Linked DNA regions of Homo sapiens. The protein of the gene in region 3 purifies or fractionates together with the protein of the main gene of each other region. This does not show direct contact. Each region holds a gene or a part of one and is shown on either strand. Other genes may lie near its edges.

Region 1 (7,940 bases), on a different chromosome or scaffold from region 3:
GATGAACATCCAAGTTGACCAACCAGTGTGGTGCCTAACAGAGGACAGAGCCACCAGCAGGGGTGCTCAGGGGCTGCTCCCCTTTTATTAATGACAGCGGTTTCTCTCAAGGAAGTGTAGTGCCCTCCCCTTTGGGATAGTTGCCTGACCCCTGTCCATCAGCCCTTCAAGTACCCTCATCAGAAAAAGAGCCCGCGCATTCTCCTGCCGATGCCTTGTCGGTCGTAGAGGACATTGAACTTGTTCACAAACTGGTTCATGGTGTTGCACGTTTTGGTGATGGTGCCGAGGTAGGCCATGAGCCCCACGTCGTTGCATTGCTGGGAGGGAACAGAAAGGACCAGTTCCTCGGGATCCCTCGTGGCATGCCCGGGGAACAACAGTCCCCAGTCCTGCACGTGAAAGTGACAGCATAAGCCCCGCCTCCCCATCCGGGTTTTACACTCACATCATAAAAATCTGTCTTGAACTTGTCTGTGCTGAGCACCGGGAGACAGTGACACAGAGCATAGGCCTCCCGCAGGATCTCATGATTAAAGGGGACCTCTCCTAAAGGCACAAAAAGAGACTACATTAGTTTGGATGCTGTCACTTCCCCAGGAGGGAGAGGAAGAATGCCAGGGAAGCCCCTGTCCTACCCGCTTCAGAGGCCTTGACGTACTCCAAGATGAGCTTGACGCGGCTGTGCAGCATCTTGATGGCGCTGTGCTGTGCTATCAGGTGTTCAGCCACTGCAAGGGGATGAGGACAGGAGGAGGTTGAGACGGGATGTGGCCACACCTTCCAACCCCACTTCCAAGGAATCCCCTCCATTACCAGTGGAGTTCTCTCCACTGCCTGTTGCTGTCATTCGGGCTACGTGGTCTACACCAATGCGTTCCGCTTCCTCTGTGGCCAGAGTGTAGGTCAGCTCAGCAAACAGCATTGTGGCCTACAGGGCAAGGTAACCCACAAAGGGAGAATCAAAAGCAGGAAAGAGGCCAAGAGCAGGATCTGAGGGTTGAAGGGTAGGGTATTACCTCTCCATTGATTATATCAATGACAGACTCAAAAACGCTGACAGGAAGCTGTGAAGGAGACGGAGAAACCTGAACACTATATGCCAACATTTGGGCTAGCTGCTTTTACACATTTCCTCTCATCTTCCCAAGAAACCAATGAAGTAGGGATTACCTCCTTTCACAGTTTGGAGATTAAATGACTAAGCCAGAGTCACAGCTGGTAAGTGGCATCTGGCATTCCCCAATAGAGGAGTGTCACACAGTAAAAGGTATAGCGACAATCATGACAGAGTAGGCATGGAGTATTACTCACATCTGTGTGCTTGGTCATAGGGTTCAACTTCAGAAAGAGGGGGCTCTCGATGATCTCACACACCTGGAAGAGAGGGACAATGCACAGGAAGTCAGTGCCCCCTACCTTTCTCCTTCCCCTCATTCTCCATTCTCTGCCCCAGCATGCACAGGTGTGAGCATGCATACCTGCTTATGGACGTGGATGTCCGAGGGGTCAGGTGGCCCCCCTGTGGTATACCAACCCAGAAACTCCAGCTCCTTGAACACCTGTTTAACTAGAGGGGAAGGGGCCAGAACATATAGTAATTCTTTTTTTTTTTTTTTCTGAGACGGAATCTCGCTCTGTTGCCCAGGCTGGAGTGCAGTGGCATGATCTCAGCTCACCACAACCTCCGCCTCCCAGGTTCAAGCAATTCTCCTGCCTCAGCATCCCGCGTAGCTGGGACTACAGGCACGCACCACCATGCCAGACTAATTTTTGTATTTTTAGTAGAGGTGGGGTTTCACTATGTTTGCCAGGCTGGTCTTGAACTCCTGACCTCATGATCCACCCACCTCGGCCTCCCAAAGTGCTGGGATTAGAGGCATGAGTCACTGAGCCCGGCCTGACATAGTAATTCTTTAAACCATCCTTCCTCAATGTGAAGCTCCTGGTGTATTTTCACCAGCTTCTCTCCTCCCTCCTCAAATCCTGGCTCAGTTTAGAATAACTACTCCCTTCTATCCTGTCTCCTCTCATCCTTTGCTTTCTTTTGAGAAAGAACTCTGAACGTTTTCTTTTTCTGAGATCTCTCCAGCTACTCTTCACTTTTTCTCCCCTGTTCTTGGTCTCCTCTCCTGTTTCTTTCCAACCCTCTCCATCTTCCCCACCCTGTACATTTTTTTTTTAACTCCCACTCCTCTTCCCCACATCTATTCCACTCTCACACTGCTCCTCCTTGGTGTAATAATATTCCTTGTCAATGATAATCTTCTCTTCCACGGTGTGGGACAGCAGCTCAAAGGAGTTCATCACCTCGATATTTCGGCCCTCCTGCTTGCCAATCAGAGCCCCAATCACTGGGAAAGAGAATGACATGGAAAAGGTGAGGGTAAAGAAACTTCTATGACCTGAGGGTCTGAGATCAGTGGGAACCATGTATTGGGGAAACGATGATTTGGGGGAGGGGGAATTGGCTCCAGTAGAGGAAGGGGAAAAGACCACTGCCTGGGGGAGGTGAGCAAGGAGAAGAGACTGGAGTCTATGCCCAACACTCACCCTGCACAGGCCGCCCCTCCTGGGAGCGCATGCGGATCCAGTGGTCTGAGATGTTGAGAATGACAAGGGGATGGAGAGCGACGGAAACACTCCCAGTCACTCCGCAGGCCATCACGCTGGGGACTACTAAGGGTGGAGGGAAAGGAGAGAGGGTGAGAGTCCGGGCCCCACGTTCTTCCCTGGAGATGGCAGTGGGGGACGGCGGAGCCCGGGCCACACTTTCCTCCCGTAACTTATCCCAGGGAAAGATGTTGCTGCTCCGCCCTCCTCCCTTCTCCCGGGAGCACAGGGAGGCCTCAACGAACCCCTGAAGGAGGTCTCCGGAAGCCACCCCCGCACGGCCCGTTACCTGCTGCATCCACCTCCATCCCGCTGCTTCCTCCGGTCCCGTTCGTAGCTGCAGCCGCCGCCGCCGCCGCCGCCATTTTCCCCGCGCCCGCCAGCCTCGGCCCCGCCCCCTTCCTTCCCGGCTTCCGTAAGGCGAGCGGCGCATGTTCGGTGTCCCCGCGGCGTGCGGCGGGCCTGGCGTCCGGGGAGCAGGCAGTTCCCGGGTCGCGGCGGGCGGCACTCGGTGCGGGGACGCCCGACGCCCTCTGGGCCTCGGTGCCTAGCGGGTTTTCCCAGACCCTGTCCCCGCCTGTCGCCTGCGGGTGACCTTTGACAAATTAACGACTTGATCGTCCTCGTCTGTGAAATTGGGATAAGAACGCCTAGTTCTTAAGGCTGTTGCAGAAGGAATGACATGTCGTGTTATTTCCCTCACAATAAAATCCAAACAACTAACCACAACCTGCAAGGCCCTGCCTGATCTGGCCCCGGCCTGGCCTCTTCTAGCCCTTGATCTTCAGGCTTCAGCTGCACTGGCCCTCATGTCTGGTGGTGGTGGTGGTTTGTTTTGTTTTGTTTGAGACAGGGTCTCGCTCTGTCGCCCAGGCTGGAGTGCAGTGGCCTGATGTCAGCTCACTGCACCCTCAAACTCCTGGGCTCAAGTGATCCTCCCAGTTCAGCCTCCCGAGTAGCTGGGACTACAGGCGCACCCCACCGCACCCAGCTAATTTTATTATTTGTTTTTATTTTGATAGAGACGGGGGTCTCACTAGGTTGTCCAGGCTGGTCTCCAACTCCCGGGCAGAAGAGATCCTCCATCCTCAGCCTCCCAAAGCACTGGGATTACAGGCATGAGCCACCGCACCCAGCTCTCCGTGTGTTTTTCACATGCTTTAGTTTCCCATTCAAAAGCCTGTGGTTCCTTCTCTTGTTCATCATGGTATCCCCTGTGACCAACACGGTGCCTGACACATTGGAGCCTAGATACTTTTTGAGTGAATGAAGGAATAATTAGGGGTGGAATCTGGTGTTGAGTTAGTTGCTCCATCTTGTGAAAGTTGCAGATACCAGGACAAAATCACATTGTCAGGTCCAAACAAATTGGAGCCATGAGAACACCAAGGAGAAGGTCTCATGCTTGCATGTCTGAGATAGGAATTATCTCAAGGACTTTCGAAAATAACCCCACAAGGCCAGGCATGGTGGCTCACACCTGTAATACCAGCATTTTGGGAGACCGAGGCCAGACAATCACTTGAGGTCAGCAGTTTGAGACGAGCCTAGCCAACATGGTGAAACCCCATCTCTACTAAAAATACAAAAATTAGCCAGGCGTGGTGGCAGGCGCCTGTAATCCCAGCTACTCAGGAGCCTGAGGCAGGAGAATTGCTTGAACCCGGGAGGTGGAAGCTGCAGTGAGCTGCGATCGCGCCACTGCACTCCAGCCCGGGCAAGACAAAGTGAGACTCCATCTCAAAAAAAAAAAAAAAAGAAAGAAAGAAAGAAAGAAAGAAGATAACTCCACAAGGCCAGGCATGGTGACTCACGCCTGTAATCCTAGCACTTTGGGAGGCCAAGGTTGGAGGATCACTTGAACCCAGGAGTTTGAGACCAGCCTTGGCAACATGGTGACACCTTGTTTCAACAAAACATGGAAACAAAATTCGCTGGGTATGGTAGAGGCATGCCGAGGAAATTTATGCTTGGGAAGTGAGTCAAAACTCCCTTCCTTTTTGTTCCCAGATAGCTGTAATTCCACAACCCTGTGTCATAGCCTCATACATAAGCCAGGCTCCTACAATGGCAAAAGGCATATACCTCCCCAGATGGTCTTCCTCACAAATTGCTTGCCAGGAAATTCCTCATTAGCCTCTGAATCTTTCAGCATAAACATTCCCCCTATAAACCAGCCCTAATCCGAGTTCTGTGAAATCTCATACTGACAATGTTGATTACAAGCTTATCTTCCCAATTATAGAACAAGGAAGAGACCAGGAATCATCCCTCCACCTATCCTGAGACAGATGCATAACTGACTTTTTCCTCCACTCCCTCTTTTCAAATGTTTATTGTATCTTACATAAAATGTAGATTTACTGAACACTAATGAGAAACTCACAAAAAAGTAACAATGTGCAGCAGGGTGTGCAGTGGCTCATGCCTGTAATCGCAGCACTTTGGGAAGCGAGTGGATCACTTGAGGCCAGGAGTTCAAGACCAGCCTGGCCAACATGGCAAAACCCCATCTTTACTAAAAATACAAAAATTAGCTGGGTGTGGTGGTGCCCACCTGTAATCTCAGCTACTTGGGAGGCTGAGGCAGGAGAATCACTTGAGCCTAGGAGGTGGAGATTGCAGTGAGCCGAGATGGACCCACTGGACTCCAGCCTGGGCAACAGATTGAGACTCTATTTCAAAAAATAAAATAAAATAACCATTTGCTGGACTGGGTGCAGTGGCTCACGCCTGTAATCCCAGCACTTTGGGAGGCCGAGGCAGGCAGATCACAAGGTCAAGAGATTGAGACTATCCTGGCTAACACTGTGAAACCCCGTCTCTACTAAAAATACAAAATATTAGCTGGGCATGGTGACACGCACCTGTAGTACCAGCTACTTGGGAGGCTGAGGCACAAGAATCGCTTGAACCTGGGAGGCAGCGGTTGCAGTGAGCCGAGATTGCGCCACTGCACTCCAGCCTGCTGACAGAGCGAGACACTGTCTTAAGAAAAACAAAACAAAACAAAACAAAAAACATTTGCCTCACTGCCTCTCCTTCTTCCTTATTTTCCTCTTGCATGCTTTCTTCCCTTAAATACTGAGTTCCTGGCCAGGCACAGTGGCTTATGCTTGTAATCTCAGCACTTTGGGAGGCCGAGGTGGGTGAATCACCTGAAGTCAGGAGTTCAAGACCAGCCTGGTCTCGACCAGTAGAGATGGTGAAACCCCATCTCTACTAAAAATACAAAAATTAGCCAGGCGTGGTGGTGCATGCCTGTAATCCCAGCTACTCGAGAGGCTGAGGGAGGAGAATCACTTGAACCCGGGAGGCGGAGGTTGCAGCGAGCCGAGATCACACCACCACACTCCAGCCTGGTTGACAAAGCAAGACTCTGTCTCATAAAAAAACCCAAAATTCACATCTGGCTAGCCTAGGCTGCTCCACCCCCTCCTTACCCCTAAACCTAAGCAAGTTGCACACACTGCTCCTCCTGCCACCCCTACAAAGAGGGGTACAGACACCTAGAAAGAGCCAGACATACTCTGGCTCTAGGTGTCTGTATCCCCACCCAAAGTGTAAGCTCCTAGAAAGCAGGTGAAGAACTGTGTTATGACCCTGAACAGCCCCATATGGTGATAGTTGTAATTTACAGGGGAATTATGCAATCTCTCCGTTTAGGAGCCTGGATGAAGGAAACTTGAAGGGGCCAGCAACCCTCAATGGAACGGACTTGAGAAATCCTGCAGGAAGAGGGGTCTTCTCGCCAAAGGGAAGTTAAAAAGGAATTTATTTTATTCTAGTCCCCAGTGATAAACCAACCAGGTCTGGACAAACTGAGAGGGTTGTCAAAGAAAAGTACCTAATGCCTTGTTTCTATTTGGAAAAACCAGGTCAGAAAAATGTATCTCTTTGGTGAGATGTTGGCTCACTGCAACCTCCACCTCCTGGGTTCAAGTGATTCTTGTGCCTCAGCCTCCCAAGTAGCTGAGATATCAGGCTTGCGCCACCACACCTGGCTCATTTTTGTATTTTTAGTAGAGATGGGTTTTCAGCATGTTGGCTAGTCAGTTCTCAGACTCCTGGCCTCAACCGATCCACCTGCCTCGGCCTCCTAAAGTGCTAGGATTACAGGTGTGAGCCACCGTGCCTGGCCAGAAAAATGTCTCTCTTTAAAGAATGCTAGGCAGCTTCCAAGGAGCATAGTGCTTCTCAGCTAGATAGAAGGCTAAAATAAAAACAAGATGAGAATTATTCTAGGGTTAGTAAAGTTGATCGTTTGCACTGCTCTCTCACACATTAAAGAACTCCTTTGCCTTGTTGTTTCAGGTGCTTTTGAAACATTGTTCAGATAATTATACAGCTCATAAAACAAGAGATTATTGTGGAATTTAAGGATGACTTTGACATTGAATCAGTTGATTGTGCGCATTTTAGAACTAAGTTTGCTAAACGTTTCTTTTTTTTTGTTTTTGTTTTGTTTTGTGTTTGTTATTGTTGTTTTTGAGACAGAGTCTTGCTCTGTCACCCAGGCTGGAGTGCAGTGTTACAATCACAATTCAGTGCAGCCTCAACCTCCTGAACTCAAGTGACTGTCCCATCTCAGCCTCCCAAGTAGCTGGGACTGCAAATGCGTGCCACCACGCCAGGCTAAATTTTGTATTTTTTGTAGAGATAGAGTTTCGCCATATTTGTTTGTCTCAAAACAAACAAACAAACAAACCAAAAAAATATCCCCACCCCAAAAACAAAAACGAACAAAAAGCAAGTGCTCCTTTTTGGTATGGGTCAGTGGTTATCTATTCACCTATCAGTCATTAATTTAACAAATATTTGGGAGTGCCTACCAGGCAGCAGGTACATCACTAAACAAAACGAAGTCCTGACCTCATGGAGCTTATACCCTAGTTGTAGGAAACAGACCATAAACATACTTCAGGATACGTATATATATACAGAGATGGAGTATCCCTCTGTCGCTCCCAGGCTGGAGTGCAGTGGTGCGATCTCGGCTCACTGCAACCTCCACCTCCCAGGTTCAAGCCATTCTGCCACCTCAGTCTCCCAAGTAGCTGGGATTACAGGTGCCTGCCACCACTCCCGGCTAATTTTTGTTTTTGTATTTTTAGTAGAGGCAGGGTTTCACCATGTTGGCCAGGCTGGTCTCAAACTCCTGACCTCAGGTGATCTATCTGCCTCGGCCTCCCAAAGTGCTGGGATTACAGGCGTGAAGCACTGCACCCGGCCAACAAATTGAATTTTAAAGATTGAGTTGGCTTTATTAGGGATTCATGAACTGGCAGCACCCAGTCTACAAAACAGAAAGGAAGCCAGGTGTGATG
Region 2 (7,017 bases), on a different chromosome or scaffold from region 3:
CTCATGCCTGTAATCTCAGTGCTTTGGGAGACCGAGGCAGGAGGATCACTTGAAGGCCGGGAGGTCGAGAGCAGTCTGGGCAACAGAGTAAGATCCTGTCTCTATAAAAAAGTTTTTTAAAAATTAGCCAGGCATGGTGGCACACTCCTGTAGTCCTAGCTACTAGGAAGGCTGAGGCAGGAGGGAGGAGGGAGAATTGCTTGAGCCCAGGAGTTTGAGGCTATATTGAGCTATGATTGTGCCTCTGCACTCCAGCCCGTGTGACAAAGTGAGGCGCTGTCTCAAAAACAAAACAAAACAAAAGAAAGAAAGAGCATAATAAAATGAAGAGTGTAGCTGTGGACCTAACAGATCTTAGGTTCAAATCCCAGTTCTGACACCTATTTTCTGTCTGACTTGACATTTCTTTTAAATTTTTTTTTCTTTTCTATACCTCTTACGTCTCTTCATCTTTTTAATTTTTTTAAAAAAATTTTTATTTGTTTTGAGACAGGGTCTGGCTCTGTCACCCAGGCTGGAGTGTGGTAGCATGATCTCAGCTCACTGCAACCTCTGCCTCCCGGGCCCAAGAGATCCTCCCATCTCATCAGCCTCCCGAGTAGTTGGGACCACGGGCATGCACCACCCACACACACCTGGCTAATTTTTGCATTTTTTTTTTTTTTTTTTGTAGAGATGGGGTTTCACCATGCTGCCCAGGCTGGTCTCGAACTCCTGGGCTCAAGCGATCTGCCCACCTCAGCCTCCCAAAGTGTTGGGATTATAGGCATGAGTCACCATGCCAGACCCTGACTTGACACTTCTAAACCTTAGTTTCCTAATCTGATAATACCTACCTCTGCAGGGTGAGGAGGAACAGAAGCGCTTGCATGTAAAATGCCTGACACTGATCCTATTAAATAATATTTATTGAACATTCTAACAGTTTACAAGTGTCATCTCACAGACTCCTCATAATAATCCTATGAGACAGGTGCTATTGTTATCCTCATCTTACAGATGCAGGATCTGAGGCACAGAAAAGTGAAGTTGCCAAAGCTACACAGTTCTTAGACAGAGAGTCAACCTATACAGTCTGACTCCAGGGGCCAGGCCATTGGCCACTAAATAATAATTACTGGGCCGGGTGTGGTGGCTCACACCTGTAATCCAGCACTTTGGGAGGCCAAGGCGGGCAGATCACTTGAGGTCAGGAGTTCCAGACCAGCCTGGCCAATGTGGTGAAACCCTGTCTCTATTAAAAATACAAAAATTAGCCGGACATGGTGGCAGGCGCCTGTAATCCCAGCTGCTGGGGAGGCTGAGGCAGGAGAATCACTTGAACTCAGGAGGCAGAGGTTGCAGTGAGCCAAGATCGAGATCATGCCACTGCACTTCAGCCTGGGTGACAGAGTGAGACATTGTCTCAAAAAAAAAAAAAAAAAAAAAAAAAATTACTGGCCAGGGAGCAGCGGCTCACACCTGTAATATCAGTATTGATACAATTTCAGGAAGCTGCTGAAACTTTGTCTCTTACCATTCCTTAGGGTTAAGCTGCCTTGACTCTGCTGATCTCAAACACAAATTTAAAGAGTGCCATTTCAAGGTCATGGACTAAGTTGGTACAAGGACAGTTTCTGGGAAAGCTTTCGCTGGTAGGATAGACTCATCACCAAAGCATCTTCAGGAAACTTCTTAGCCATCTTTGAGGCTCCTGGCTTAAATAATCCCATGTAGGACTGCTTGAGGTTTTCTCTGCAGAAGAGAGCTGCTTCTAAGCAATGCTTTACTTTCTGGGAAGCTTTAGATAAAAACTCACCTTGATGTCTTCTCCCCTGCCCAGTGGGCTCCGTATTGCTGTTTGAGCTTTTAAGAGACAGGGTCGCCTGGGTGCGGTGGCTCACGCCTGTAATCCCAGCACTTTGGGAGGCCGAGGTGGGTGAATCACCTGAGGTCAGGAGTTTGAGGCCAGCCTGACCAACATGGTGAAACCCTGTCTCTACTAAATACAAAAAATTAGCCAGGCGTGGTGGTGCATACCCGTTATCCCAGCTACTCGGGAGGCTGAGGCAGGAGAATCACTTGAACCCGGGAGGCAGAGGTTGCAGTGAGCCGAGATTGCACCATTGCACTCCAGCCTGGGCGACAGGAGCGAAACTCCGTCTCCGTCTCAAAAAAAAAAGAGACAGGGTCTAGCTCTGTTCCCCAGGCTGGAATGGAATGTAGCACTATCACAGTTTACTGCAACTTTGAACTCCTAGGCTTAAGGGATCCTCCTGCCTCAGCCTCTTGAGTAGCTAGGATTACAGGTGCAAATCACCATGCCTGGCTACTTTTATTTTTATTTTTTGTAGAGATGGGGGTCTCATCATTTTGCCCAGGCTGTTCTTGAAGTCCAGGCCTCAAACAATCCTCCCATCTCACCCTCCCAAAGTGCTAGGGTTACAAGTGTGAACCATCTGGCCAGGCACGGTGGCTCATCCCCGTAATCCCAACACTTTGGGAGGCCAAGGCAGGAGGATCACTGGAGGTCAGGAGTTGGAGACCAGCCTGGCCAACATGGTAAAACCCCGTCTCTACTAAAAATACAAAAATTAGCCAGGCGTGATGGCACACGCCTGTAATCCTAGCTACTCAGGAGGCTGAGGCAAGAGAATCGCTTGAACCCAGGAGCCTGAGGCTGCAGTGAGCCAAGATTGCACCACTGCACTCCATCTTGGGTGACACAGCGAGACTCTCAAAAAAAAAAAAACAAAAAAAAACAGTGTGAGACATCACACCCAGCCACTTGTTTGAGCTTTGTGAAAATTTTTTCTGGATGTTTTCAGAACTTTGTTTTCCAGTGATCATAGCTAATTTTCCTGTCTGCTCTTAGGCCTCACAATTACCTTAAGATAGTGGAAGGAAACAGAGAAAAGGGAGCATATTTTGATAATGCTATACTCTCTCACTATTTAAAAGCATCTGCAGTCTTTAACTTGCATCCTGACAAATCCTGCCACAATTCAAAATATCTCTTGTAGAGAAGGCTCTGGAGTTTCATCCTGTAACTCTACTACTAGCTGCAAGGTCAAGGAAAACTAAACCATTCAAGTTAGAAATGTTTCCTTTCTAACTCAGTGACAGTAGTGTTATATCCAGATGTGTAACTCAAAAGGGAACCAGGTAGGCCATCAGCACCCAAACACTCAGGCCTCAACTATGAAGCTCCCTGACCATGAATGCCTAGCTCCCATTCTCAGGAAGGCCCCCTAAGAGGTTCAAGGATAAGCAGTTTTATAGAATTTGGGGGGTCATGAATAAGGACAAAATTGTACAAAAGTCCTGATCCAAACACTGCCCTCAACAGCCTCTGGAGAGCTCCCTGGGCAAGGTCTGATCCTGTTCTCCACCCCATCTCCAAGAAAATGGGGTTAATACCTCCCCAGATGGCTATACGGAGGATTAAGGGTCATTATTCTTGGCACTGAGCTCTGTTACAGCTCTAGCAGTTGTGACCTTGTATCCTAAAAGAAGATAATAAATACAAAAATGCCAACGGTGACCCTCAAATCTGGCTCTGCAGTAGTAGCTGAGAATTTTCTTTGCACAGGGCCTCTGACACTGCCTCCTATACACTCTGGCCTTTTGACTGCATCCTCCCCTTATTCAGGCTTAAAGTTTTTTTGTTTTTTTTTTTTGAGATGGAGTCTCACTGTCACCCAGGCTGGAGTACAGTGTTGCGATCTCAACTCACTGCAACCTCCACCTTCTGAGTTCATGCGATTCTCCTGCCGCAGCCTCCTGAGTAGCTGGGACTACAGACACCCGCCACCACGCCAGGCTAATTTTTGTATTTTTAGTAGAGACAGGGTTTCACCACCTTGGCCAGGCTGGTCTCAAACTCCTGACCTTGTGATCCGCCCACCTCAGCCTCCCAAAGTTCTGGGATTACAGGCATGAGCCACTGCGCCCAGCCCAGGCTTAAAAGTTTTTAAGGTATTAGTCTTCAATGCCACAAAGCCCTTCAAGGAGTCAGCAGCTATTACTTAATAGCTCAAAGAATGGGCCCTAGAACTCTCAGAGTTACACATAGGCCTGAATTTACCCAGAAGAAGCCAACTAAGTGGTATTCCTTTACATCCAAGCCCTGGCTCTTGAGGGCAATCAGTGAGGTCTAGTAAAAAGGATATATTTCATCATTTAGTCCTCAAAAACCCACTAAAAAGTAGGTACTACAATAAGCCTCATTTTATAGGTGAAACTATAGCTCTGAGAGGATACATGATTGGCCCTAGGTCACAGAGCTAAGGAGGAGACATGGGTTCAAATATCAGCCCTACACTACTAGTTGTGTAACCTCCAGCATATTCCTTAACTTTAGTCTAGAGTCTCAGTTTCTCATTTGTAAAGTGGGGATAATGGTAATACCTTCCTTCCAGGGGAGCTCTGAAGATTATAAGAGACATTATAGAAAAAGTAGAGCTGGGCCTGGTGGCTCATGCCTGTAATCCCAGCACTTTGGGGGGCCAAGGTGAGTGGATCACCTGAGGTCAGGAATTCGAGACCAGCTTGGCCAACATGGTGAAACCCCATCTCTACTAAAAAAATACAAAAATTATCCAGGCATGGTGGCGCGCACCTATAATCTCAGCTACTCAGAAGGCTGAGGCAGGAGAATTGCTTGAACCTAGGAGGCGGAGGTTGCAGTGAGCAGAGATCGTGTGCACTCCAGCCTGGGCAATAAGAGCAAAACTCTGTCTTAAAAAAAGAAAGAAAAAGTATCTAGCAAGTGCCTGGTATATACTAAATATTCAATACATGTTAGTTTTTTTGGGTTTTTTTGGTTTTTTTTTTTTTTTTGAGACAGAGTCTCACTCTGTCCCCCAGGCTGGAGTGCACACGATCTTGGCTCACTGCAACCTCTGCGTCCCAGGTTCAAGCAATTCTCATGACTCAGCCTCCCAAGTAGCTGGGATTACAGGTGTGCACCACCACGGCTGGCTAATTTTTTGTATTTTTAGTAGAGACAGGTTTGCCATGTTGCCCAGGCTGGCCTCCAACTCCTGAGCTCTGCCCACATCAGCTTCCCAAAGTGCTAGGATTACAGGCATGAGCCACTGCACAACTGGCTTTTTTTTTTTTTTTTTTTTTTTGAGACAGGGTCTCTGTTGCCCATGCTGGAGTTCAGTAGCGCAGTCTTGGCTCACTGCAACCTCTGCCTCCTGCACTCAAGTGATGCCCCCGCCTCAGATTCCTGGGTAGATGGGAATACAGGCACATGCTACCACACCTGGCTAATTTTTAAATTTTCTTTTTGTAGAGACTGGGTTTCACTATGTTGCTCAGGCTGGTCTCAAACTCCTGGGCTCAAGCAATCCACCCACCTAGGCCTCCCAAAGTGCTGGGATTACAGGTGTGAGCCACCGTGCCAAGCCATGTTAGGTTTTACAGATCAAACAGACAGGGAGGCTGGGCATGGTGGCTCACACCTGTATTCCCAGGACTTTGGGAGGCTGAGGTAGGCAGACTGCTTGAGCCCAGGAGTTTGAGACCAGCCTGAGCAACATAGTGAAACCCCATCTCTATGAAAAAATTAAAAAATTAGCCAGGCGTGATGGCACACACCTGTCTTCCCATCTACCCTGTCTCATAAAAAAAAAAAAAAAAAAAAAGCCAGGAGCGGTGGCTCATGCCTGTAATCCTAGCACTTTGGGAGACCGAGGCAGGTGGAACTCAGGAGTTCAAGACCAGCCTGGGCAACATGGCAAAACCCTGTCTCTAATAAAAATACAAAAAAATTAGCCGGGGCTGGGCGCGGTGTCTCACACCTGTAATCCCAGCACTTTGGGAGGCTGAGGCGGGCGGATCACCTGAGGTCAGGAGTTCAAGACCAGTCTGGTCAACATGGTGAAACCCCATCTCTACAAAAATACAAAAATTAGATGGGCGTGGTGGTACATGCCTATAATTCCAGCTACTTGGGAGGCTGAGGCATGAGAATCACTTGAACCTGGGAGGCAGAGGTTGCAGTGAGCCGAGATCATGCCACTGCACTCCAGCCTGGAAGATGAAGTGAGGCATGGGAATCACTTGAACCTGGGAGGCAGAGGTTGCAGTGAGCTGAGATCATGCCACTGCACTCCAGCCTGGATGACGAAGTAAGACTCTGTCTCAAAGAAAAAAAAAAGATGTGGCAAACTCTCTGCTTGAATATCTGCAATGATGGGTAACTCACTCCCTCACAAGGCAGCCCATTTTGTTTTTAGAAAGCTACATTATCTCCTATCAAACCAAAGTCTACCTTCTTGGAAATTATGTCATTTAATCCTGAGATGCCTTCTAGAATCACAGAGAACATCCAGTTTCCTTTCCCCATGACAATCTTCAAGTATTTGAATGAGGTATCATGTTCCCCCAGGCTCTTAGCCTTGGTCTTTTCAGTTCTTCTTCATGTGTCACAGTCCCAGAGGCAATTCAATATCACAGAGCAGAGAGACCTGGGTTTGAATTCCAGTCCTTCCTCTTACTTGCTGTGTGACCTTAAGCAAATAACTTAATTTCTCTGAATCTGTTTCTTCATAGGTATAATAGGGAAAATGATTCTCACCTCACAGGACAGTCATGAAGGTTACACTGGATAAAGTAAAAATACTAGCTAGCACTGAGCTCAAGATATACCAGGCCCTGAATAAAATGTCAGTCACTTTTTAGGACATATCCCAACTGGCAAATACCTCTCAAAGTAAATTAACTACACCAAGGAACTGGCTTCTTTCTTTTTTTTCTTTTCTTTTCTTTTTTTTTTTTTTGAGATGGAGTTTCACTTTTGTTGCCCAGGCTGGAGTGCAATGGCACGATCACAGCTCACCGCAACCTCCACCTCCTGGGTTCAAGCGATTTTCCTGCCTTAGTAGGAAAATCCCTCCTGAGTAGCTGGGACTACAGGCGCGTGCCACCATGCCCGGCTAATTTTTTTTGTATTTTTAGTAGAGATGGGGTTTCACCGTGTTAGCCAGGATGGTCTCAATCTCCTGACCTCGTGATCTGCCCACCTCA
Region 3 (7,665 bases):
TTTTAGTAGAGATGGGGTTTCACCATGTTGGCCAGGCTGGTCTCAAAATCCTGACGCTCAGGCGATCTACCCACCTTGGCCTCCCAAAGTGCTGGGATTACAGGCATGAGCCACTGCACCCGACTCTGACTCTAGATTTGTATTTCACAATATATACAAAAATTCACTCTACATAGATCGTAGACCTAGATGTAAAACCTAAAACTCTAAAATGTCTGGAAGAAAGTATAAGAGAAAACTTTGTGACCTCAGATTAAGCAAGATTTCTTGGATACTAAAAGCACAATCCATAGAAGAACAAACTGATACATGTGACTTGAAAACTTAAAACAATTACTCTTCAAATGGCACAGTTAAGAGAATCAAAAGACAAGTTGAAGACTAGGCAGAAAGTATTTGCAAGGCGAATATCTGATACAGGACTTGTATCCAGAATACATAATAAACTCAAATACTCAATAATAAGAAAATAACCAACCCAATAAAAATGAGCAAAATATTTAAATAGACACTTCGTCAACGAAGATACATAGAATGGCAAGTAAATACAAAGATGCTTAGCATCAGAGGGAAATGCAAACTAAAACTACAATGACACTCCACCACACACCCACAAGCACAGCTAAAGTTACAGACTGAGGACACCACACGCTGGTGGCGGAGTGGAACTGGAGCTCCCATACACTGCTGGGAGAGACGCACACGCTGGTGGCGGAGTGGAACCGGAGCTCCCATACACTGCTGGGAGAGACGCAAAAGGGGCAGTCACTTGCAAAAACAAGAAATTCCGTACAAAGTTAAACATACATTTTCCATATGACCCTGAGAACTTACTTCTAGATAAAGAAGTAAGCAGAACTCACCTGAGAGGAGTAAGAATATATGTCCAAACAAAGGGTTATTCACAAATGTTTACAGCAGCTTTATTTAAAACAACCCAAGGCCAGGCGCGGTGGCTTATGCTGGTAAACCCAGCACTTTGAGAGACCGAGGTGGGTGGATCACCTGAGGTCAGGAGTTTGAGACCAGCCTGCCCAACATGGCGAAACCCCGACTCTACTAAAAATACAAAAATTAGCCAGGCGTGGTGGCAGGTGCCTGTAATCCCAGCGACTCGGGAGGCTGAGGCAGGAGAATCGCTTGAACCTGCGAGGTGGAGGTTGCAGTGAGCCAAGATCGTGCCATGGCACTCCAGCCTGGGCCACAAGAGTGAAACTCCGTCTCAAAGAACAAACAAACAAAAAACCCCAAACATGGACACCCAAATGTCCATTAACTGGTGAATGGATAAAACAACTGTGGTATACCCATTCTACTAGGTAATAAATTACAATCACACTGCGTTGTGCATGAATCTCAAAAGCACTGTCCTAAGTGAAAGCCAGATACAAAAGACTATGAAATACATGACTGCATTTAGATAAGGTTCTAGAAATCGCAAAATATAGTAACAGAAAGCAAATGGGGGACCGCCAAGGGCTAGGAGTCAGGGGAGAGGGCTGACTGCAAAAGTGGTCATGGCAATTTCGGGGGTGGTAGCAATATTCTACCATTCTACCAAGAAAGATTCCATCTTGACCGTGGTGCCGGTTACGTAACTGCATGCATCTGTTAAAACTTCCTGAAGTGCACATTATATGTAGACTCTATCTCAAAGCTGGTAAGAAAACATCATCCACTTACACTTCAGACAAAGAATGGATGTATGTACACCAAACTGTCAACAGTAGTTTTCTTTGGGTGGTAGGAGTATAGGTGATTGAAGTCTTCTTTTTTGTATTTTTTATAATTTTTACAATGCAGTCACTTGCATATCCAGAAAAAAAGTTTTTTTAATTCAAGCCTTTTAATAGAAATAATTGTATGACACATCGTGACCTAAAATATAGATATTAGACTACTGAATGAATGTTACTTTACAAAAAGAAGACACCAGAAAAAAAGTCGCTTATAAATAAAATATCCAAGTATGGTAAAATGTACTTTTTTGTTACTTCAGAAACGGAACACCATCACTTTGAATTAAATGCTACCAAATCTGTTTGAATACCTTAAAGGCAACCACTAATCACAAAACACAACAGAGAACAAAACCACTTTTTCTGAATTTTGAATTTTTTCAAAATCTGTTTGAATATCTTAAAGGCAACCATTAATCACAAAACACAACAGAGAAAAGACCCTCTTATTACTGTGGCAAGTGACACAGTCATGAGTTTTACATATAACGAGAAAATAATTTGCCGTATACTTGCAAAATATGAGTCACGTGGCTCCTAGAAACACACCTCCTTCTCTTCCGTAATGGGATAACTTTAAATATGGTTCTAAGCAGCTTAAGCCTGAAAACAAAAATTCCACCACGGCAATAAACAAAACCACTTGTTGCCTCTGGGGCTCCCGGCCCTGCAGTGGAGGCAAACGCCCTGCCTTTCCGCTCCCCGGCGAGAGCCTGCGAGGCACCCGGAGCGGCCGCCCGGCCGCGTCTGCGTCACGCGGGGCAGGAGCGGCGTCCCCAGCCCCGGCCGCCGCCTCACCTGGTAGAGCTCCTCGAGGTTGTACCTGATGGAGGTGCTGCTCTGCACGGCCCGCACCGCCTCGTGCAGCTTCCGCCACGTGTCCTGCGTGTAGTTGTCGGGCAGCCGAGGTCTGTCTGCAGGGCGGAGGGAGAGCGGGCGGCTCAGGGCGCGCCGCGAAGCGCCCCGCGTAGCCACCCCCGACCCGGCCGGCGCCCCGGCGCCCCCGCTCCCGGGGCCCGCACGGATCTCGGGGCCTTCCCCCCAAGTCGGGCGGGGTCTCGTGGGGTCCCCGCCCGGGGCGCCTGGCCCTCGACCCGGCCGCCGCACCCACCTCGGAAGTTCTTGATGACCAGCTTCTTGGAGCCGCCCGCGCCCCCCGGCTTGGCGGGCGCGGCGGCCAGGGCCGCGGGCTTGGTGAGGCCGTTGGTGCGGCCCACGAGCGCCGAGAAGCTGCCCTTCCGCGGGGCCTCGTCCGCCATGGCTGGGCCGGAACCGCCGCGCCCCGCCCCGAGCGCCGCCGCCCGCCGAGCTCCGCTCCGCCCGCCCCGGTCCGCGCGGCCTCCGCCCCGTCCTCCTCGCGCGCCCCGCCCCGCCCCGCCCGCGTGCCCGAGCCCAACCGCCGCCGCGCCCGGCTACTCCTGAGGGCTTAGGAACGCGCGCCGGGAATCCCTCCTGAGGGATCGGACTCCCCCTAAGAGATTCGGACACCCCCTCCTGGCTCGAGGGCGCGCGCCGGGACTCCCGTCCTGAGGGATCGGGACCCTCACCCCCGGCTCCGGGGGGCGCACCGAGACCCTGCCCCCAGGGCTCCGGGCACCCCCTCCTGGCTCGGGGATGCGTGCCGCGGGCACCCCTCCTGAGGGGATCGGGAGCCGGGACACCCTCCTGAGGGCCCCGGGGCGCGCGCCTCCTGAGGGCTCGGCACCCCCACCCCGGGCGTGAGACCACCTCGAGGGCTCAGGGGTGCGCGCCGGGACGTGCCCTAACTCCTGCAGGCTCGGGAGCGCGCGGCGGAGGCACCTTATGAGAGCTCGGGAGCGCGCGCCATGTCCCTCCCCCTCCCCCTCCTCGGGCGCGCGCGCCCCGAGGCCCTGGCCCAGCCAGGCGCGGAGGGTCCTCCGCGGCCTGGTTTTCACAAGGGGCAGACGAAGGGTCAGCGCAGTGAAAGGCAGTTTAGCCGTGGGGCTGTCCTCGCCACTGGACCCCAAACCCCTCAGCCCGGGCGGGCCCGAACACACAATCAGAGCCGCTGGCGTCCCGGCTGAGAGGACGGGGCCCCGGCAGAAAGACCCCGGGCCCCCTCAGCCCGAGCGCGTCGCCGAGCCGGTCCCCAGGTTCTCCCTCCGGAACCAACCTGCGCACCCGCGGCGGGGCCGGGGGCGCCAGGACCCAGACGGACCGAGGGCCGGAAGTGACGCCAGCTGGCCCGCTTGAGGCGTAGGGGGTGGCGCTCTCCGTTCGGCGGCGCTCCCATGGCGCACATTACCATTAACCAGTACCTGCAGCAGGTGGGTCCTAGCCGGGGAGCGCGCGGCGGCGTGGTTGGCCCTCGGCGTGTTCCGTGTGTCCCCTCCTGCCTTGGACCCTCAGGCCTTTTCCTTTCCCGCCTCGCCACCCTTCTTCCGTTCGGGTCCCCGGCGGGCAGCCGCGCGAGCCGAACAGCGGCGGCCGGGACTCGGGAAGGCGGCCCGAGTTCTCCCCTGCAGGGCCGCCGTGGGGGCCGGGCGGTGTCCGTGGATCGCGGAGTCGTCGCGGTGTAAGTAGACGCGGCGGTCCCAGGTCGCTGCCCTCACTTGCTGGCACGTGTGGCCGCGCTCCCAGGCGGTCCGAAGGGCCTGCGGGCCACGCCGAGGGCCCGCTGTGGGCGGTGCTGTGTCGGATGGACGCTGTTTCCCAGCAGGATGCGGGATGAATTCGGGGACTCCAGGAGGCGATGGAGGAGTAAGCGCGAGGCTGTGGCCGTGCTGCAGGCCGGGCTCGTGCCCCTCGTCCTCGCTGTCGTTTAACGCCCTTCACTCTCCGAGCACAATGCACACTTCATATCGCTCGGTACATGCGTCTGACAGATGTTGTTCAACAGCTTGTAAGTAGCAGAAGCACAGTTAAAAGATGGACACTTGTAAAGATTCAACGCATATTCTTTCCACTAAACTATGCCTGTCTTCAGAACCAGCACTGTGGTAACAGGGATAGGAAATATAGGGAATGGATTTTTAAAATATTTGAAGGAAACATTACCAAGACGTGGTGAATAAGAATGGGTGGGCTGAGGGACACGGAGGAGTTAAGAATGATTCCCAGGCTTGTAATCTGGGAAAAAGATGAATAGAGTGGATTTGGAGGGAGAAATAAAGTTTTGGGCATGTTGAGTTTGAGGTGTCTGTTGACAACTGGGTAAAGATACGTACTTGATAGCTGAAAAGTCTGACATGATTGGGCCCAGCAGTTGCTTGGTTAATTGAGAAAACTGGTTAAAACAGGAATCACGAAGAAATGGATGTATGTTTTTAACTTAAAACATGAAAGTATACATTCACTTGCCAATTTTTTTTTTACACCACTTACCTCAAGTTCTATACTTGCCAATCTTTTGATGTAAGCCCAGGGCCTTTTCTTTAGGCTGTGTCTGTTTTGGCCTAATCTTAGCAGACTTAACATTTTCCAATATCAGTTTATTTAAAGTTAAACAAGGATATAGGCATTTAAGAACCAATTTGATACGATTATCTTTAGAATTTTCTTAATCTTTTACAATTTTTCCCCCATACCTAATTATTTTTTTAACAAACTCAAGTGAGCCTTTTAAAAACATACAACTTAGCTTATAGAGAAACAACTGTTTCCTTTTGCATTCATATTTCATTGATGAGCTTAAAAGTACATAACTACCATAACAGGTTCGGGTAGCAAAAATAGATTTGAGAACAAACACATCTGGATATGAGAACACATACAACTTAGCTGGCAAAAGCTTGCGATGTATTAGAGTGAAGCCTACTTGCTGAAAGTCGTCATCATACCTTGGGCATCAGCTCGTGTATTTCAGGGAGGGATTGGAGAGAGTCATTTTTCCAATTCAAGTCAGTTAAAGTGAGACTGATAAGCGAGCTTCTACTCTATGTGTGTAAACTGAAGTTTAAACAGACAGATTTGGGTTAAAGATACAAACCTGAGACTCCTTCGTAGTCACATGATGGGAAAGACTGAGAAGGGAAGGGGTGACCCAGGGAACAAGTAGAGAGAGTAGACAGGGGCTGGGCCCAGGATGGACTTCTATGGAGATGTGCATGCCTACATCTCCGCAAAGGGCAGTGTAGCCACTGGGGTGAGACAGCAAAAAGTCCGCTTCCTCCTAATTCTGATGGATAAAAATATTTCTGGTTGAACTGGCATGTTACCTAAGTTTTATGTATTAACAGATTCTTGAATATTTTAAGAAAATAGGTGCCTCTTCGATACAGAATGGCAACCGGTTATACATGGTAACACATGTTTGATTTGTTGTATAGGAACATAAGTGCCAATGTCACTGTATCTCTTTGGGAATAAAACCATCATTTGCACATTCATCAAAGCTAGGAAGTTGGGGGAAATCATTGACTCCTCCTTTAGTCTCAGCAAATAGTCCTTTACCTAATTGGATGTATCTCCGAAGTCTCTCAGATCCATCCCTTCTTTATCTGTTGCCACATGCTCCCCAGCCAGGACGCCCTGCTGCAGGTACTGGTTGATGGTTTCCTTTACTTTGCCCTTTCCAAGTGAGACACAGCAAAGAGACCATAGACTTTAAAGACAATAAGACTTCAGCCCAAATCCTGGCATTTTTACTAATTCTGGGACCATGACAAGTTATCTAACTTCTGTGACTCTCCATCTCTAAACAGGCTTCACATAAGTTGTGAGAATTAAAAAGACCATGAATTCACAGTAAATGCATTTACTTAGTAAATGATAGTTCTGGTATTTTATTGAAGAAGAGTTGAGCATCTGCCTCTGTTACTAAAACTTCATTGACTCTCTGTTTCCTCCAGGGAAAGTTCCAAATGCTTTAGCACATCATCTGGTCCATGTTTACCTGTTAACTTGGCATCACCAGTCTGAAGGTTTATTTCACTTATGCTGAATGCACCATTGCCCCACCGAAGTACTCATAACTTAAAATATACCATTTAACCATTTTAAAGTACACAATTAAGTACATTCACAATATTGCACAACCATCACCATTATCCAGAATTTTTTGTCACCCCAAATGGAAATGTCATAAGCATTAAGCAGTCACTCCCTGGTCCTCCCTCCCGAGCGCTTGTCAACCGCTAATGTGCTCTCTGTCTGTATGGATTTGCTGACTCTGGTGATTTCAGTATGTGGCTTTTGTGTGTCTTTCCCTTGCATCATGTTTTCAGGGTTCATCTGTGTTGGAACATGTGTCAGTGTGTCGTTCTTTTTTATGGCTAATGATATTCCATTGTATGGAGTATTTTGTTTATCCATTCATCAGTTGATGGACCACTTCAGTTGTTTCCTCTTTTTGGCTGTTGTGCTGCTGCTGTGAACATTCTTGCGCAGGTTTTGTATTCTTTTTGGCATATACCTAAGAGTGGAATTGCTGAGTCATATGGTAATTCTGTGTTTAACTTGTTAAAGAAATGCCAAAGCAGCTAGCTGCATCATTTTACATTTTCACCAGCAATGTATGAGGGTTGCAATTTCTTCACTTTCTTGTCAATGCTTGTTTTTTTCCATTCTTTTTATTATGGCCATCCTGCTGGGTGCGGAGTGGTATCTTCTTGTGGCACCCCATGATCTTTCTTGTCCCAAAGATTTTCTTCATTATGTTCCTTTTGCCAAGAACACCTCTCTTTTTTACAGGTGTAGTGAACATCTTTATTTAGGGAATCAGCTTTGAGTTAGATACTTTACTCCTTAATCTTCAGTAGTTCTTCATATTGTCTTTCAAGAGTTTATGGAATTGGAAAGTTTGACTATTCAGAAGTGACTTCAGAGGTTCATGACCTGTAATGATTTTGAATTTTTAAAAGAGTTATGAGTTCCAAGAGTAGATGGTGCCTCCTGTGGACCAGACTGGAGGGCGTGAGGGGCATGCAGCAACCACAAGGAAGTCTTCCTGGGGCCAGAGCCAGGG

What was found. The genes of interacting proteins can lie anywhere in the genome.
Region 1: the proteins of CUL4A (region 3) and COPS6 purify together in Homo sapiens (affinity purification with mass spectrometry; 15 studies listed by BioGRID and IntAct, with this or other methods). This does not show direct contact.
Region 2: the proteins of CUL4A (region 3) and WDTC1 purify together in Homo sapiens (affinity purification with mass spectrometry; 11 studies listed by BioGRID and IntAct, with this or other methods). This does not show direct contact.

The regions. Positions count from the first base shown.
Region 1 is NC_000007.14:100,084,029-100,091,968, reverse strand, and holds the start of COPS6 (COP9 signalosome complex subunit 6), read right to left. Parts: upstream 3,001-7,940; 5' UTR 2,979-3,000; coding exon 2,903-2,978; intron 2,680-2,902; coding exon 2,554-2,679; intron 2,355-2,553; coding exon 2,223-2,354; intron 1,571-2,222; coding exon 1,482-1,570; intron 1,378-1,481; coding exon 1,315-1,377; intron 1,068-1,314; coding exon 1,020-1,067; intron 932-1,019; coding exon 817-931; intron 732-816; coding exon 639-731; intron 550-638; coding exon 449-549; intron 321-448; coding exon 180-320; 3' UTR 1-179. UniProt on the Homo sapiens protein: Component of the COP9 signalosome complex (CSN), a complex involved in various cellular and developmental processes.
Region 2 is NC_000001.11:27,237,615-27,244,631, reverse strand, and holds part of WDTC1 (WD and tetratricopeptide repeats protein 1), read right to left. Parts: intron 1-7,017. UniProt on the Homo sapiens protein: May function as a substrate receptor for CUL4-DDB1 E3 ubiquitin-protein ligase complex.
Region 3 is NC_000013.11:113,204,961-113,212,625, reverse strand, and holds the start of CUL4A (cullin-4A), read right to left. Parts: upstream 3,014-7,665; 5' UTR 2,999-3,013; coding exon 2,851-2,998; intron 2,654-2,850; coding exon 2,538-2,653; intron 1-2,537. Other genes in the region: PCID2 (PCI domain-containing protein 2), read left to right, coding at 3,992-4,027. UniProt on the Homo sapiens protein: Core component of multiple cullin-RING-based E3 ubiquitin-protein ligase complexes which mediate the ubiquitination of target proteins. As a scaffold protein may contribute to catalysis through positioning of the substrate and the ubiquitin-conjugating enzyme.